Homo sapiens: one gene and its partners. The protein of the gene in region 1 purifies or fractionates together with the protein of each later gene. This does not show direct contact. Each region holds a gene or a part of one and is shown in the gene's direction. Other genes may lie near its edges.

What was found.
Region 2: the proteins of THG1L (region 1) and MTR fractionate together in Homo sapiens (co-fractionation; one large-scale study listed by BioGRID). This does not show direct contact.
Region 3: the proteins of THG1L (region 1) and EEF2K fractionate together in Homo sapiens (co-fractionation; one large-scale study listed by BioGRID). This does not show direct contact.

The regions. Positions count from the first base shown.
Region 1 is NC_000005.10:157,734,266-157,737,919, forward strand, and holds part of THG1L (probable tRNA(His) guanylyltransferase), read left to right. Parts: intron 1-310; coding exon 311-480; intron 481-1,580; coding exon 1,581-1,669; intron 1,670-3,621; coding exon 3,622-3,654. UniProt on the Homo sapiens protein: Adds a GMP to the 5'-end of tRNA(His) after transcription and RNase P cleavage. This step is essential for proper recognition of the tRNA and for the fidelity of protein synthesis.
Region 2 is NC_000001.11:236,850,641-236,854,294, forward strand, and holds part of MTR (methionine synthase), read left to right. Parts: intron 1-1,880; coding exon 1,881-1,997; intron 1,998-2,307; coding exon 2,308-2,448; intron 2,449-3,654. UniProt on the Homo sapiens protein: Catalyzes the transfer of a methyl group from methylcob(III)alamin (MeCbl) to homocysteine, yielding enzyme-bound cob(I)alamin and methionine in the cytosol. MeCbl is an active form of cobalamin (vitamin B12) used as a cofactor for methionine biosynthesis.
Region 3 is NC_000016.10:22,258,155-22,261,808, forward strand, and holds part of EEF2K (eukaryotic elongation factor 2 kinase), read left to right. Parts: intron 1-339; coding exon 340-541; intron 542-2,307; coding exon 2,308-2,375; intron 2,376-3,654. UniProt on the Homo sapiens protein: Threonine kinase that regulates protein synthesis by controlling the rate of peptide chain elongation.

The DNA.
Region 1 (3,654 bases):
TAATCCCAGCTACTCGGGAGTCTGAGGCAGGAGAATCACTTGAACCCAGGAGGCAGAAGTTGCAGTGAGCCAAGATGGTGCCATTGCACTCCAGCCCAGGCAACAGAGCAAGACTCTGTCCTAAAAAAAGAAAAAAAAATACAGAACCAAGGTATTAAAATAGTGTTTCTTAGCCAAATGCATTTTATCTCCTGGCTTTCTGGGCAGTTTGTGTACTCTCTGTGGTACCCACAGGTCTTATCATGGTGTTGAACTAATTCCGTGTATTTTTCTTTTTCTTACTCCACCCAATGTGCGTTACATTTTCAAGTAAGTTCATGACTCACGTGGCCTCCCAGTTTGCCTCCAGCTATGTGTTTTATTGGCGGGATTACTTTGAGGACCAGCCCCTTCTGTATCCCCCAGGCTTTGACGGAAGAGTCGTGGTGTATCCCAGCAACCAGACTTTAAAGGACTACCTCAGCTGGCGACAAGCAGATTGTGAGTGGCACCAAATAAACACATGTAGTTAAACCACCAATTCCATGTCTTACAGGTGTTGATCTGATACAGGATTGGCTCACATATACTTTGTTTCAACATATACGTTGTACAGAATGCAGTATTTAAATATTTTTTCAATTAGTTAAAAGTATTTGAAAAATTAAATTTTACGTAAAAACTCCTTATCTCTATTTTTTTTTTTTTTTAAGACAGAGTTTCGCTCTTGTTGCCCAGGCTGGAATGCAGTGGTGTCATCTTGGCTCACTGCAACCTCCACCTCCTGGGTTCATGGGATTCTTCTGCCTCAGCCTCCCGAGTAGCTGGGATTACAGGCATGTGCCACCACGCCCGGCTGATTCTGTATTTTTTAGTAGAAATGGGGTTTCTCCATGTTGGTCAGGCTGGTCTTGAACTCCTGACCTCAGGTGATCCACCCGCCTTGGCCTCCCAAAGTGCTGGGATTATAGGCGTGAGCCACCACGCCCAGCCGCCTTATCTCTATTTTTTAAAAAAATCAGATGTGGCAATACTGGATCTGCATTCTTACTTAGTACTAGACAAAGCCTGTTCAGTGGCAGCTACCTTTACACACACACACACACACAAATGCCAGTGTGCCATAGTCTCTGCCATTCCCTGTTGTTCCTCTGGGGTCACCCACTGCTTTACACATTTATGTTCATGCTGGCCTCAGTGGGTATTTGAATTGTGACCCTTGCCTTATGTGACTGTGATGATGTTTGTGAGGCTTTTACTTGCTTGTTCTAGTTTGAATTTTCCAGAAGAACTGGAAAAGAGATTGAAATAATATAAATCAAATAACTTCTAAAGTATTCCTAGGATTAACACACAAGTTAACAGATTTGTATAATGTGTAACTGAAATGACCAAATAAAACTGTTGTTAGGGATGAAGTTTTTTCCCTACTGCTCCTTCCCTCCATGTTCCGTGTGTAGGACTTCGGTCAAGTCACTGAATGTCTCTGAGATCTCTTTACTATGAAAGAGGAGAGGGTCAGGGCTCTAGTATTCCTTGAAGAATGAATATTCAATAAAGATTTTATGTATATAAACATTACTATTTTGTTCTCCTCACAGGTCACATCAATAATCTTTATAATACAGTTTTCTGGGCACTTATACAACAATCTGGACTAACACCAGTACAAGCCCAAGGGAGATTACAGGTATAAAGATCTTACTACATTAATACTTAACTGGGGACAGTTCGCTGTAGGCTCTCCCATAACTTTTTTTTTGTTAAATTTACATTTCTTTCTTTTAAGATCCCTGTACAGCTTTGTTTTGAAAGGATATAAAAATCATAATAGGAGCAGCTCTGCTGCCTGCTTGGTCTGTAATCCTGGATGAATTACTGCTTCTCCCTGAGCCTTTGTGTTCTTAGTGGAAAATGGAATTGACGGCACTGGCTCTGCATTCCCACGTGCTAACACTTGCCTGAAGCCGTGTATGACTGTGTATGACTGCCGTCTTCAGCACTGACTTTTTTTTTTTTTTTTGAGACACAGTTTCACTCTGTTGCCCAGGCTGCAGTACAGTGGTGTGATCTCAGCTGATTGCAACCTCCACCTCCTGTGCTCAAGCGATTCTCGTGCCTCAGCCTCCCAAGTAGCTGGGATTACAGGTGCATGCCACCACACCCAGCTAATTTTTGTATTTTTAGTAGAGACAGGGTTTCACCCCGTTGGCCAGGCTGGTCTTGAACTCCTGACCTGAAGTGATCTGCCTGCCTGGGCCTCCCAGAGTGCTGGGATTACAGGCGTGAGCCAGTGAGCCACCACACCTGGCCAGCACTGAATTTTTGTCAGTCCCACCACGCCTCTTCCCTCATTGCCATTTTCCCTGCTGGGCACCTGTAGTTTCTTGGGTTTATGACCTCTGTGTATAGGAAGAGTTCGTGCTGAGTTTGTTACTTTCATAAATGTCATAATAACTACTCACATCATGCTTCTGTGTAATTTTATCCTTTCTGCCTCAGTTCTTTATAGGTAAAATGTAGAAAATAGTAGTTTCTACCTCATAGGTTTATGGTGAGAATTAAATGGCATGATGCACGTAAAACACAGAATCGTATGAAGCACATTGTAAGTGCTTAATAAATACTGGTTTTTGTTATAACAGTGCTACTTGTAGGATGACTAACTGTGAAGTGAGGTAATGTGTTGTAACAGATCTTTTATTTGTATTTTATTTTATCTATTTATTTATTTTTTGAGATGGGTTCTTGCTATTTTCCCCAGGCTGGTCTTGAACTCCTGGGCTCCAGCAGTCCGCCCACCTCAGCCTCCCAAGTAGCTGGGATTACAGGTGCATGCCACTGTGCCCAGCTGTAACAGTTACTAATACAATGCCTGGTACATTATGTTTGCTCAATAAATGGTTGTCATTTTTAATAATAGTAATGATAGAGATTTTTATATAGCAATAATAGGAAAACTGGGGCCTGGTGTGGTGGTTCACGCATGTAATCCCAGCACTCTGAGGAGGCCAAGGTAGGTGGATCACCTGACGTCAGGAGTTCAAGACCAGCCTGGCCAACATGGTGAGACCGCTTCTCTACAAAAATTAGCTGGGTGTGCTGGCACACACCTGTAATCCCAGCGACTCAGGAGGCTGAGGCATGAGAATCGCTTGAACCTGGGAGGTGGCAGTTGCAGTGAGCTGAGATTGCACCACTGCACTCCAACCTGGGCAACAGAGTGAGACTTTGTCTAAAAAAAAAAAAGGCATACTGGTAGGTATATCCAGGTTTGGAAGAGTCAAGTTCAGATTTCAATTCTTCGTAGAAGAATAAGGACAACCTTTTAACCTTGGGGAATTTATATAACCTTTCTAAGTTTTACTGGACCAAATACATAATATGTATTCAGTTAGTATTAATTCTCCCCACTCCCTTTCAGTCTTGACTTGTGAAGCCAGTGTTTGGTATAGGAGAGAATTTTATCTAAGTAAGATCATAATTGCCCTTAAGATGAAAATTTACTAATAACTATAAGATGTTTGATAAAATCCTTCCACTTCTTGATTGTGGAAATTTAGGTTGTGGGTCGAATGGATAGTAGCACTAGGGGAGAAAGAAGACATGCAGAGCTTTTAATATCTATTTTTATTTTCTCAGGGAACTCTTGCAGCAGACAAGAATGAGATTTTG
Region 2 (3,654 bases), on another chromosome or scaffold:
GTAAATTGTTTTTCTGAAATGTAGGAGACCTTATTTTTTTTCTTTAGTAGAGTTTTAACTTGTGTAACAAACAGACTGGAGAACATAACAGAGCCTGATGAACTCGCTTGAACCCAGGAGGGTGGAGGTTGCATTGAGCTGGGATCACGCCAGTGCGCTCTAGCCTGGGCGACAGAGTGAGGCCCTGCCTTGAACAAAATGATGCAAAACAAAAAAACCACAGAACCTGATAAATAATTAATTATGAAGCATATAAGAGCCTTCACTTAGGTCCCAAAATAGAGCATAGCTAGCGCCCCCGTCTGTCTCTCCTTTTCCAGTTACACCTCATTCTCAATTTTATAAAGTAGCTATTGTCCTGAGTTTTATGACGCTACTCTGTTGCTTTTCTTCATAAATTTATTGCTTATATATGTAGATTTGATTTGCATCATCTATGGATTTTATATTTGCAAATTCATGTACTTACTGAAATTTATTTGTGACCCCAAAATCAATACTCAACGTCACTTCTGCAGTTGTTCAGACTTACCCATATGCAGAGTGGTGGAAAATTTGAGTGGCCCAACCCATATTATTCCCAAAGAGGGCAAACATGGCAGTGACCTACCTTCTTATTTCAGCTCTCATCCTGTACACAGATGTCCTTTTTGCAGTCTAATGCCATGTTTTTCACACTTTTATGCGTTTTGTTGGTGAGGTCACTTTTTAAAATGGCCCCATACTAGTGCTGTCTAGTGTTCTAAGCACAAGAAGGCTGTGATGTTCCTTAGGGAGGAAATATGTGTGTTAGATAAGCTTTGTTCAGACATGAATTATAGTGCCATTGGCTGTGAATTCAGTCTTAATGAATCAACAGTAAATATTAGATACAGCATCTTAACATACATGCACAAAACAAGGTTATGTATTGATTGGTTGACAAAAATGTCATCAGAGGCTCATAGGAACCTAGCCCTGTATTTCTCCTAGGAGCAATGCTCTGGTATTCCCTAATTCAGTGTTTGCAGTGACTTTAAAGAACATAACTACCACAAAATAGTAAGAATTGACTGAATATCTGAATGATATAGTTTGGTTTTGCCTGCTTTTGAGCCTAATAAAAATAGAATCGTAATATTTTTATGTTTTTTTCTTACTCCATACTAAAGATTTATCTGTGTGGCTGTAGCTGTTTGTTCATTTTTATTAATGTATAATATTCTATGGTATAACTATACCACAATTAACTGTTCTATTGTTGATGGACATCTAGTTTTTTTCCAGCTTTTGGACATTATGAACAATGCAGCTCTGAGTATTCTTATATATGTATCTTAGACATGCATGCCTGAACTTCTCTGTAGCATAGACCCAGAAGTGGTTGGCTCATAGTAGTAGATAATGACAAACTGTCTCCCTAGATTCTTGAGCCAATAATAGTGAAAGTTCCTGTTATTCCACAAGCCTGATGATGCTTGATACTGTCATCGGTATGGTTGGAACTTCAATTTCCTTTTGTCCTTTTATAGTCGGTCAAGTTCATAGTGAACTAGGGAGTCTGTTCATTTAGGCTATGGAAGCCTTCTAGTAATTTGTACTTTCAGTGAATAAGGAATTCCTCTTTGTCTTTCTGCGTGTGTGTGTGTGTGTGTGTACGCGCGTGTTCTCCTTAGGGAGATTGGAGTCTAGTAGGAAAAACTACTTACGAAGCAGCGCCTTTGTAATACTGTAATACGGCAAGCTTTGGTCTATGTCTAGTAACAAGAAGCTCTGAATTACTTTGAACTTCGGATGCTTTTTGTTTTTTTTTCTTTCCACTCCTATATAAAGCTTAAGAGATGTGATTGCTGTTTTTGGCAAAAAAGGGGAATCTTTTCATATTTTAAAATTTTTGCCAGGAAACATTACCTGGAGCCAGAATAAGTGGAGGTCTTTCCAACTTGTCCTTCTCCTTCCGAGGAATGGAAGCCATTCGAGAAGCAATGCATGGGGTTTTCCTTTACCATGCAATCAAGGTATGGTAGAAGAACTCTTAGCCCTGCGGAAACCAGTTTTTAGTTGGGGCAGGGGTTTTCAAAGTGTGGCATGCAGGCTAAGTCCGGCCTGCTGCCAGTTTCTGTAAATAAGATTTTATTGGGATAGAGCCACACCTATTCATTTGTATCTTGTCTGTGGCTGCTTTTATGCTGTAACTACAAAGTTGAGTAGCTGTGACAGAGGCTATGGCCTAAAATATTTCTCTCTGGCCCTTTACAGAGAAAAGTTTGCTGATCGCTGACTTAAGGTATCACTGTAAATTCTCATTTTTATTTGTATTGCCCTTAGTCTGGCATGGACATGGGGATAGTGAATGCTGGAAACCTCCCTGTGTATGATGATATCCATAAGGAACTTCTGCAGCTCTGTGAAGATCTCATCTGGAATAAAGACCCTGAGGCCACTGAGAAGCTCTTACGTTATGCCCAGGTAGAGAGACAAGTGTTCTAATAGATGGATTTTTCCTATCTTTGAATGTATTACTCACCTACAGTTAGTAGACCTTCATGGTGGAATAGAAGCAAATATCGAATCATATATTTGGATCACTGAAGATTTCTACAGAGAGTTGCAGAGATGGTGGTGTAGCTAGGGCAAGGAAGGGTAAACAGACCATGCCTAGGGTGCTTCCGTATTCTGAACTTAGGTTTCTTTAAATTTATTGTAAAATGTAAAATTAATTTTTCTTGTACCAAGTAACATATTAGTTCTAGAAAATTTACAAAATTCTGGTAAGCAAAGGAAGAAAATAAAAATCACTTGTAATCCTACCACCCAAAGTTAAACACTTGAGATTTTGTTATAACCTTTAAGTGATGGGAGTTTTTATTTCTTTTTGCAAAATGAATATGCATGCATAGGTACATATACATACATTTTTTACAAAAATAGAACTATACTCTAGATGCTTTTATGGTAATATTTTTTTCTTAGCAGTGTACTGGGAACATATTTCCATTTTACTTGATATTTTTCTACCTCATTATTTAAAATAGCTGTTCTGGATTTTCTTGTGTGGCTATGTTAGTGTTACATGGTCCCCACTGTTCCATGTTTTGGTTTGTATACCTGTTTATGTTAGGATCTGGTCCATCTGTGGCAAAGTTCTGCAGTTCAAGGCTTAGGTCTGTGCACATTTGATGTGTAAAAAATGAGTATAATTATAGCTAATTCAAACACCAGCTTGTTTCTCATTTATATGTTGGGCGCAGTCCTAGGCACATGAAGTATCTATCGTAGATGGTTCTTCTTAGAATTCAGTTTAAGGAAAGTTGAGATCTTTACCTCAAAAGAACTTGCATTTTAATCTGTTTAAGAGAATGATGGCAAAGGAAGATATTTTTCCCACAAAGCATGTTGAGAAAGTGGTAGGATGCTTTTGTGTCTCTTGCCAACTTTGTTAATGTTTTCCATGTTAGAATCTGAATTTAGCTCTGATAGAACTGCCAACTTTGCCTCTTCCACAGAAGAGTAATAAAATGCTCTGGAAGAAGGATAGGACACTATGAGATTAACCACATCCTTGTTTTATCAGCCTTACTGGTAGTAAGACTTAGATTTCTGAAATTGCTTATGGAAGCCTTAGGCTCAACAAAGCTGAAAGGAGTTCAGACACTGTGCCAACGCTCACACGAC
Region 3 (3,654 bases), on another chromosome or scaffold:
GCTACTTGGACCAGGGACAAGAGAATGTTGCAAAGACCAGCTTGGGATGCTGGACATAGAGTGGAATGCTTTCTCCAGCTCTGGGCTGTGGAATGTGGTCAGTGCTTTAGGGGATACTGGCAGGTCCTCTGAGCCTCTGTTCCAGATGCCCTTTCTTGGAGGCCTTAGGTTTAATCCCTGACTGATTTTTTATTTTTTAAGACAATATATCAGCTCCTAAACAGGCATGTTTAGGAGCTGTGGATGAAGGGGTTTCAGGGTTAGAGGGAACAACAGGAAGAGCCCTTTAATTCCCAGAGGGTGTGTGCGTGACATGAGTATCCCTATTAATGTCCCTAGCAATCAGCCAAGACCATCTTGAGAGGAACAGAGGAAAAATGTGGGAGCCCCCAAGTAAGGACCCTCTCTGGGAGCCGGCCACCCCTGCTCCGTCCCCTTTCAGAGAACTCTGGAGACGAGAACATGAGCGACGTGACCTTCGACTCTCTCCCTTCTTCCCCATCTTCGGCCACACCACACAGCCAGAAGCTAGACCACCTCCGTGAGTGACGGTTCGGTCCCTAGTCACTGTGATTGGAGGGGACAGGTGGAGCAGAGCTAAACCAGCTTTCATTTATGTTAGAAAAATCAGACATGCTAATCGAAAAGGTTCATGGCCCCAGTGGTTTTATAGGTGAGTTTCATTGAGTGAACTTTCAAAACAGATCATCCAAATGCTATAAAAACAACCCCTATTGTAGGAAACAAAGTAACTTTTATCAGTGTGTTTTATGAAACCAGCAAAACCTATATAATAAATTTGACAAACTAAAAAAGAAAATTATATCCCAACCTTATTTAAAATTTGTATTTGTGTATAGAGAACAAAAAAAAAATCTAAATAGATATTAACAAATAAAAATAGTACTATGTTAAAAGGTTCACCTGTCACAGTTAAATAGGGATTTCACAGGAATCTGAGGGTTGTTCAATGTTAGAAAAGCTATGAATGTGATATTAATGGGTCAAAGGAGAAAAACAGAATCATTATTTCTGACACTGAAAGAGTGGAGTTTGCTGATGATTCAGATGAGAGTCTGTAGGAAAGGATAGAGGCAAGACTGACCCCAGGGTATTGGCCTAAAGAGCTGGAGGTCATGTATTCAGGGAAAGTGTGAGCGGGAGCAGGCTCAGAGCAGGAGAGCAAGATTTTATTGTTTAGTTTTTTAATTTTTCTCATTTTGATACCTTTGAAAGAGAGAAAGATTTTAGTGTCAAACATTAAAGAAGCCCTTTAGATGTTTCCACTGGAAGGTCTTTGGAATAGTCTGGAACAGGAGTCAACAGACTTTTTTAAAAGGTCAGAGAGTAAATATTTTAAGCTTTGCAGGTCATTCAGTCTCTGCATTTGGAGCATGAAAGCTACCATAGAAAATATTAAGTGAGTGGATGTGGCTGTGTTCCAATAAAACTCTATGGATGGTGAAATTTAATTTTTGTCATCCATTTAAAAATGTAAACACTGTTCTTACAAACTATAAAAACAGACAGATAGATTTGGCTGTAGAGGGCAGGAGACAGAGATAGGGAACCACCAGGAGATGGTTGGTGTTTTTTTTTTGTTTGTTTTGTTTTGAGACGGAATCTCTCTCTCTGTCACCCCGGCTGGAATGCGGTGGCGTGATCTTGGCTCATTGCAATCTCTACCTCCTGGGTTCAAGCGATTCTCCTGCCTCAGCCTCCCAAGTAGCTGGGATTACAGGTGCATGCCACCATACCCAGCTAATTTTTGTATTTTTAATAGAGATGGGGTTTCACTATGTTGGCCAGATTGGTCTTGAACTCCTGACCTCAGGTGATCCACCTGCCTCGGCCTCCCATAGTTCTGGGATTACAGGCATAAGACACCGTGCCCAGCTGAAGATGGTTTTGAAGCTATCTGAGGCCCACTTCTTGAGCCCCAAATGTATAAACGTCTGTTCTTCCTTCACAACTGCATTTTATTGAGGACCAAGTGGTGGCCAGGCACATATGCTAATAAACACATTACAAGGATAATTGCATTGTGACAACCCTGAGGACACACATAGGTGACACCACTTGGCCAGAATCATGTAGCTGGCAAACAGCAGACTTAGAATAAGTTCTCAAGGAAGAACTTTAGCCTCCAGGTGCTGATAACATTCTTCTCCTTTTTTGTGCCTTTCTTTAAAGCTTAAAAAAAAAAAAAGGCTTGGTGGCAGGTATGGACCGCCCTAGGCCGTGGGTTGGTCTTATGCATGTTCCAGTAGTGGAACCAGGACATGATGTCTGTTTCTCCCTGCCCAGATTGGCCAGTGTTCAGTGACCTCGATAACATGGCATCCAGAGACCATGATCATCTAGACAACCACCGGGTGAGTGTGAAGGGAGGGAGGCTGCAGGCTTCAGACCCCAGCAGGGGTAGGAGTGGATTCACTCCCAGAGTGAATCTTCAGCTTCGGAGGTGGGCAGCCTAGCCCAGGCACTGCCAGGAGGGCACAGAATGGGGGAATTAGGGAGGATGCAGATGAATGTCAGCCTCCAGTCCAAGGCTGAGCTTTCCTCTGAGAAAAGGTGGGTCCCTTGCAGTTCCCAGAGATGGTTAGGGAAGAGGGACTCCCAGTCAGCAACAATGCGATCTTGTAGTAAATGCCAGTCTCAGCTCCAGGTTTGGTTTGACCCCACATGTGTTGGTTGTCCTATAGAGCCCTAATACTGGGTCTTAGATGTGTAACACATAGCACAGTAAGCCATGTGTTCTAGCTCTTCACACCTAGCTCTCCAGTTAGATAAACAGAACATTTCCTGAAGCTTTGGGTTGACTTGGTGGTAAGAAACTGAAGGCATCTTATCTGCATTCTCACAAATGTATATTATGGCAAATTATAATACTCTCTATGCTTGTGTGTGTGTTTGAAATATTTCTTAGTAAAATTGGCCAGGCATGGTAGCTCATGCCTATAATCCCAGCACTTTGGGAGACCAAGGTGGGCAGATCACTTGAGCCCAAGAATTTGAAACTAGCCTGGGCAATATGACAAGACCCCCATCTCTACAAAAAAATACAAAAGTTAGCCAGGCATGGTGGCACATACCTGTAGTCCCAGCTACTCAGGAGGCTGAGGTAGGAGGATCTCTTGAGCCTGGGAGGCAGAGGCTGCAGTAAGCCATCATCACACCACTGCACTCCAGCCTGGGTGACAGCGAGATCTTGTCTCAAAAAAAAAGAAAAAACAAATACCTTTTAGTAGAGGCTGGGCGCAGTGGCTCACGCCTGTAATCCCAGCACTTTGGCAGGCCAAGGGGGGCAGATCACTTGAGGTCAGGAATTTGAAGACCAGCCTGACCAACATGCCAAAACCCCATGTCTACTAAAAATACAAAAATTAGCCGAGTATGGTGGCAGTTTCCTGTAATCCCAGCTACTCAGGAGGCTGAGGCACGAGAATTTCTTGAACCCAGGAGGCGGAGGTTGCAGTGAGCAGAGGTCGCACCACTGCACTCCAACCTGGGCGACAGAGCGAGACTCAGTCTCAAAAAAAAAAAAAAAGAAATACTTCTTAGTAGAGGCGGGGTGTGGTGGCTCACACCTGTAATCCCAGCACTATGGGAGGCTGAGGCAGGCAGACCACTTGAGGCCAGGAGTTTAAGACC